Homo sapiens: one gene and its partner. The protein of the gene in region 2 purifies or fractionates together with the protein of the main gene of each other region. This does not show direct contact. Each region holds a gene or a part of one and is shown on either strand. Other genes may lie near its edges. The genes, in order: MGME1 and SOX13.

What was found.
Region 1: the proteins of SOX13 (region 2) and MGME1 purify together in Homo sapiens (affinity purification with mass spectrometry; one large-scale study listed by BioGRID and IntAct). This does not show direct contact.

What each region holds. Positions count from the first base shown.
Region 1 is NC_000020.11:17,988,560-17,991,681, reverse strand, and holds the end of MGME1 (mitochondrial genome maintenance exonuclease 1 isoform 2 precursor), read right to left. Parts: intron 1,744-3,122; coding exon 1,573-1,743; coding exon of another isoform or gene 1,496-1,572; 3' UTR 560-1,495; downstream 1-559. UniProt on the Homo sapiens protein: Metal-dependent single-stranded DNA (ssDNA) exonuclease involved in mitochondrial genome maintenance. Has preference for 5'-3' exonuclease activity but is also capable of endonuclease activity on linear substrates.
Region 2 is NC_000001.11:204,110,825-204,114,643, reverse strand, and holds part of SOX13 (transcription factor SOX-13), read right to left. Parts: intron 1,730-3,819; 5' UTR 1,729-1,729; coding exon 1,510-1,728; intron 324-1,509; coding exon 212-323; intron 126-211; coding exon 39-125; intron 1-38. UniProt on the Homo sapiens protein: Transcription factor that binds to DNA at the consensus sequence 5'-AACAAT-3'. Binds to the proximal promoter region of the myelin protein MPZ gene, and may thereby be involved in the differentiation of oligodendroglia in the developing spinal tube.

The DNA of each region.
Region 1 (3,122 bases), on a different chromosome or scaffold from region 2:
ACATGAATGCAGAAGTGTATAGAGATAATACAAAGGTCCCCCTTGATCCTCCCATCTCCTACCTGAATATTGCTTTCCTTGCTAGGTGACCGTGGCTGAGGGCTTAGTGAGGAGGCTTTTTTTTTTTTTTTTTTTTAAACGGAGTCTCGCTCTGTCGCCCAGGCTGGAGTGCAGTGGCGTGATCTCGGCTCACTGCAAGCTCCGCCTTCCGGGTATACGCCATTCTCCTGCCTCAGCCTCCGGAGCACCTGGGACTACAGGCGCCCGCCACGACGCCCAGCTAATTTTTTGTATTTTTAGTAGAGACGGGGTTTCACCGTGTTACCCAGGATGGTCTCGATCTCCTGACCTTGTGATCCGCCCGCCTCGGCCTCCCAAAGTGCTGGGATTTCAGGCGTGAGCCACTGCGCCCAGCCGAGGACGCTTTCTTTTATGCACTTACACAGAACTCTCACCAAAGCTATTGGGCTTGTAAAATTCTGAATTATAAAAAAAGTGCAAACAATTTCCAGGTTTATAAAATTATCCTATAAACACACAAAGTAAACAAAACCAAAGCTTCATTACTCATATCTTGTATTTTATTTCTTATGAAAATGGCTACCCAAAGAAGTCATTGTAGCAGGCTACTATTTTAAGGCAGCAACTGTATAACTTAAATGCTAAGACTCACTCCATAAGACAGAAAACCCTTCCCCAGGGCTGTAATGGGCATTTAAGTTTCCCAAACCCAGGGACAACTAATTTTTATTACCTATTGAATAGAAACAAATGGATTTTAATAGTTCCCCTCCCCTATAGCTGAAAAACTCCACAAACAATAATTGACTCTATCTACATGATCTGTTGACTCACGCCAGAAATAGTTACTAAAACACTTAGAATTGTGATGTTCAAACTGGCCTCTGGCTACTTCTGGGGGGTTATTTGGTGTTACGCAATGACATATTGCCAGCGACATGGTGAATATACTGTCTTTATAGTCAGCAATGTTTAGTTGAGGCTAATCACGTATTTATTTTTTCAAAAGGTTAAATGTAAGCTTTTCCCAGCTGAAATATATAGAAAACCCCAATGTATGAAACAAGTTTTAGGCATTGGTGTTGGCAGCGGTAGTGGGCTGATGTGTCCTCCCTGCACACAGCTGGGGGCATGTAGCCCCTTCCCCTCTGGGTGAACCCTGGGGAAATCTTGGCACCCTCAGCCTCACTGCCTTCCAATCTCAGCTCAAAGACTGGGCATCCTGCCTGGGACCACGCCCCCCCCCCCCCAATGTCCCTCAAGGGAGTACAAGAGTCACCAGCATGACTGCCCATCCTGCGTGTCCTCCTTTCAGGTAAATAAGAGGTAGCATAGCTGGGATTTCGCGTGCCGAAGTCTAGGTCTTTATATCTAGACTTTGGGGCTTTTCAGTCTTTTTGGTAACAACACATTTCAACAAATTAATACTTCTACTTGTGTTCGTGTAGCACTCAGATCCAGTGGCACCTCATTTTTACACTGGAGTAAACAGCAATATATGTTCCCAAACTGTGAGAAGGTGCTGAATGTTCCCAAATAGCAACTTGCTCCCTATTCTGAATATTCTGGTTTCTGAATATTCTGGTTCTTTTTCTTTTCCGTATATTCTTCTAGTCGAAGAAGCCACTTGGTCCAGTACTGGGAACAGAGCTCTGCATCCATGAAATGTGGGTGGGCAGGTGATCCATCTTTGTAGGCCACCACAATTAAGCCACATTGAACCTAGGAAGAAACACAGGGCAATTCTCGTTTCACTACAGTAGGTCCAGAGTTTAGGTTCGTTTCCTTCTTACTCCAGGGCAAACTCAGTATAAAATAATCTACAGGATATCTCCTAACTCAGTTTCTAAGGTAGGTTGATCAAAGACTGCACCAGGACACAAGAACACAAAGATGACAGATAAAACATTGAAGACTGGGCTGTGATCCTTACAGAGCCATTGAAAAAAAAAAAAGGCCCAAGAAGAGGGTGGAAAAGTGCTTTTTTTTTCTTTTTTGAGACAGGATCCCACTCCCATCGTCCAGGCTGGAGTGCAGTGGCACAATCTCGGCTCGTTGCACCCTCGAAGCTGAGGCGGGCACCACTTCCGGCTGATTTTTCTATTTTTAGTAATGATGGAGTTTTGTCACGTTGCCCAGGCTGGTCTTGAACTCCTGGGCTCAAGCAATCTGCCCACCTCGGCCTCCTTCAAAGTGCTGGGATTACAGGCATGAGCCACCACCCCTGGCCAAAAAGTGCTATTTATTTATTTATTTATTTATTTATTTATTTGGAGAGAGACAGTCTTGCTCTGTTGCCCAGGCTGGAGTGCAGTGGAACAACCTTGGCTCACCGCAACCTCCGCCTCCTGGGTTCAAGCGATTCTCCTGCCTCAGCCTCCCAAGTAGGTGGGACTAGAGGCACACACCACCACGCCCAGCTAATTTTTGTATTTTTAGTAGAGACAGGGTTTCGCCATGTCAGCCAAGCTGGTCTTGAACTCCTGACATCAGGTGATCTGCCCAACTCGGCCTCCCAAAGTGCTGGAATTATAGGCTTGGGCCACCACACCTGGCCTATTTATTTATTTTTGAGACAGGGTTTTGCTCTGTCGGCCAGGCTAGAGTGCAGTGGTACAATCTCGGCTCACTGGAACCTCCACTTCCTGGGCTCAAGCAATCCTCCCACCTCAGCCTCCCAAGTAGCTGGCACAAGTGTGCGCCACCATGTCCAGCTAATTTTTGTATTTTTTTTGTAGATACGGGGTTTCACTATGTTGCCCAGGCTGGACTCAAACTCCTGAGCACAAGCAATCTGCCTGCCTCGGCCTCCCAAAGTGCGTGAGCCACTGTGCCCAGCCAAAAAGTGCTTTTTTAAGTGGGAAAGGAACAAGGAAGACGTTAAGCAATGGGATAAAAATAGAGATTAAAAAAGGAAAAACCTCAAGGAGTTCTATTTTTTAACTTTTTTTTTTTTTACAATTTTTCTCCTCCTACCCCCCCACTGAGAAGTTTTTTTTTTTTTTTTTGAGACAGATTCGAGATGGAGTCTCACTCTCTTGCCCAGGCTGGAGTGTAGTGGCGCAATCTTGGCTCACTACAACCTCCACCTCGCGGGTTCA
Region 2 (3,819 bases):
GGGTTCAAACATCTCCCCCACCCCCAACAGGCCTTCACCTTTGACATCTTTGGCTTCCATAGAGTTCCTTCCTAGAAACCTCTCCTTCCAGTCACTGGACAACAGCTTCTCTATGGCTGGCACCACTGGAAGACAGCAAAGGGGTGAGGAATAACCGTCTTAACACCTCCCTGCCTCAGGCCTCTGCTTCTAACTAGGGCAGACATCCTACCTTCTTTCAAATTTCGGTTGAAGTCCAGCTTCTCCTGGCTTCCAGAGGCAGCCTCCGACACTCCTGGTCTCTTGGGTTCTGGGGACCCATTACCCTCTGGAGAGCTACAGTCCTGCAAGACATACTGAATTGTCACCATAACCCCCAAGAGAAGGGGACAGGCTGCAGGGAGGGCTGGGCACCCCAAAGATGTGTACCCTGAGGGATCCCAGCCCTATCCAAGTCCTACTTCTCCACTCACTAGGTCCCTTTGGCCTCCACCTGCCCAAGCTTTGTTTAGGAAAAGAACAGAAGATTTCAAAACAAAAGACCTGGGTTTCAGTCCAGGCTCAGTGACTCACACGATGCTTGATCCCACACAAGTCCCTGAAATGCTCTGAACCTGACTTCCCTCTTTTGAAAATGGAAATATTAATACCTCCTCTGTCACAGGATTGTTGCTGGGATCAAGGGAGTTAATGCATGTGAATGAGATTTGCCATTACAATCAGGGGCCAAAAGTCAGCTATTAGTTATCACTCCCTTGAACATACCCACTACACCAGCTGGGCTGCATAGGGGAGCAGGTAGGGGCTGGCAAAAGTTACTCACACTCCCCACTGCCTGCCTCACTCCTCTTCTCGTCAAAGTCCTCCCCATCCTTTAAGGCCTAGCTTGAGGCTCTACTTCTCCAGGAAGCCTTCCTTGATCACCAGTGCCCCCACCCCCCACCTCCTTCCTCCAGGCTGGATTCTTTCTTAGAGCCCATAACTCTCCTCATTTTCACTTATTTGGATTTTAATTATATATCACCTTTTTACATCTCATATGTGAAATCAGAATTTTTAGGAGCTGCAAGAATCCTTATGAATCATGCAGCTCAATTCTCTTGTTTTTTTAAGGGTCAAGAACCGTATCATCTTTAACAGTGACCTAATTCTTGCTTGTGTAATCAGGTTGATTTTCCCAAATCATCTGAAAAATCTGGTAGATTACTTTAAAGCCAAACTTTAGCATGTGTGTCCCATCTCCCCATCTAGTCCTCAGAAGCAAGGACTGGGTCACACATAGGTGAACTGTCACTATCAAGCGAGTAAGTACAGGCATGAGTCTAGGTCCTGCTCTGATAGGTGACCCCGCTTCCAGCCTCAGACTGAACTTGGCAGTGCCTCCCTGCTTCCCTACATGGCGTCTTACCCCTAGGATCACCACTTCTGCCTGTATCTGCTGCCATCTAGGGGAGTGGGCCTGCCCAGCCGAGCAGAGAGCCCAGGTACAGCGCATGGGTGTGAGGATGGAGGCAGGGCGGGGACACTGACCCAGGAGCCCCTGAAATTCCCCTGGGCTGGAGCTTGGGGGTCAGCACTATCCTGGGAGGCCCGGGCTGGGTCTCCAGGCTGAGGTTCAGCGGCAGTGGCTGAGCCCTGGGGGGCCTCGTGGCAAGGCTCTTTCTTCTCCTCTGACTTGATGGTGCAGTTCACCATGGTGCCAACGCCATCCAGGGCCAGCTGGGCAGAGATGGGGCTCCTCATGGACATCCTGGGGGAGGGACAGAGTGAGCTGAGGTGAGTCCCCAGTCGTAAACTTCTGCCCAGAGGCAGTGACCCTACTGTTTGCTCCCCTGACCCCACCCAAGTGCCTCCTGGTGCCTGTCACATGGGCACACTCACAGAAAGGGCAAGCTTACTTGTGAACCCACAGAAAAATCAGCAAAGCCTCTTGTATCCCTCATGCTTTTTTGTTTTGTTTTTTGCTTTTTAAACAAAAAGTTCTAGAGAAGAGTGGGCCTACCCTTGCGCAGCAGCTGCCTGTGTAATGCTTGGGACTACGGGACTAGTGGACTGACGGCCCAACTAACGAGGCCAGATACTGACTGGCTGTTTCTGAGCCCAACAGAGTTGGAGAGCGACAGCGAGAGAGAGAAAGTGTGTGTGTGTGTGTGTGTGTGTGTGCACGCATGTGTGCATGTGTCTGTGCATGTTTGTATGTATACAAATGCATTTTTTTTTTTTTGAGACAGAGTCTCACTCTGTCACCTAGGCTGGAGTGCAAGGGCACGATCTCGGCTCACTGCAACCTCCGCCTCCCAGGTTCAAGTGATTCTCCTGCCTCAGCCTCCCGAGTAGCTGGAATTACAGGCACACGCCACCACCCCCAACTAATATTTGTATTTTTAGTAGATATGGGGTTTTGCCATGTTGGCCAAGCTGGTCTCCAACTTCTGACCTCAGGTGATCTGCCCGCCTCAGCCTCCCAAAGTGCTGGAATTACAGGCGTAAGCCACCACGCCCAGCCTACAAATGCATTTTTATAATTAGTTACCAATACTTAAAAATCAAGAGATAACACATAAAAATCTAGATTTGAACTTCTAGCTCAATTGTTTTTGTGGTAAAAATTGGCTGGAATTGAGTAATGGGTATTTCTTATGGACAGGCCAGTCTACTTTAGCCTCTACACTCCTACTACTCCTCAAAAAGGAAACCAAGTATTAACTATATAAGACATATATTCTTCTATATATAAGACATATAGTCTTCTTCTTACAGTGGAGATAAGGTAAAAGTAAATGATTTCTTGCTTCATGCATCTATCACACGGGGGGAAATAGCCGGGTATGGTGGTTCATGCCTGTAATCCCAGTTACTCAAGAGGCTGAGGAAGGCACATCACTTGAGGTCAGGTGTTTGAGGCCAGTCTGGACAACCTAATGAGACTCCCATCTCTTTAAAAAAATAAAGGGCGGGGGTGGGGGGAATAACAGACTGAGATGATTGGCTTTACGAAAAATATTTTCCGGTATCTAGCTAGAATCTCTCAGAGTCTGGCCACCATAGGCATCTGAGTTTGCAGTTCCTAGTTTAAGCAGCTGGTATACCTGGCAGACCCTCTTGAGACTCTGCACCTGCTGTTCCTTTCCTGTCACATCACTGCCTGGGACATCTGAGGAGCTGAGCAATCGCAGCATCTCAGGGAGTGGTTTCCAGGGGTCATGCCAGGCTTGGGCGGAGCAGCAGATGCCTATCCTCCAAAGTCACAGAGATGCGCTCTGGGTTCTAGTGGGAACACAGCAGGTTCCAGCTATGCATGGGTCCTGCCTCAGCTACTGACTAGCCAAGTGACCTAGGGCAAGTTGCTTAGCTGCTCTGTACTTCAAGTTTCCTCATCTGTAAAATGAGCATGGTAAGAGTCTCTACACTATAGGATGGCCGTGAGGACTAGGAGTTGATATTTATATGGTACTTAGAATAGTTTGTGGCACCAGTAAGCACCGATCTGGTGTTTTGTTGTTTCCTTGTTTATCACATTTCCAAATAACATCACATGATCTGGTGTTTGTTAAACCACTACTAGTTGGAATGCAGTATAAGGACCAGCAGCTTCAGCATGCCTTGGGGGCTTGTTTGAGAGGCAAAGTCATAAGTCCCTCCCACAAATCAGAATCTCTGGGAGTTAGGCCAGGGATCAGGTTTAACAAGACCTCCAGGTGATTTTGATATGCACTAGTTAGAAAAGCACTGTTAAATACATTTTTTGATTTTTTTTTTTTTGCATGGGGATTAGATGTTTAGGGGAAGTATGTAAGGCTAAAATCAGATATAGTAAAAATATCCCTACAGTAAAAAAAT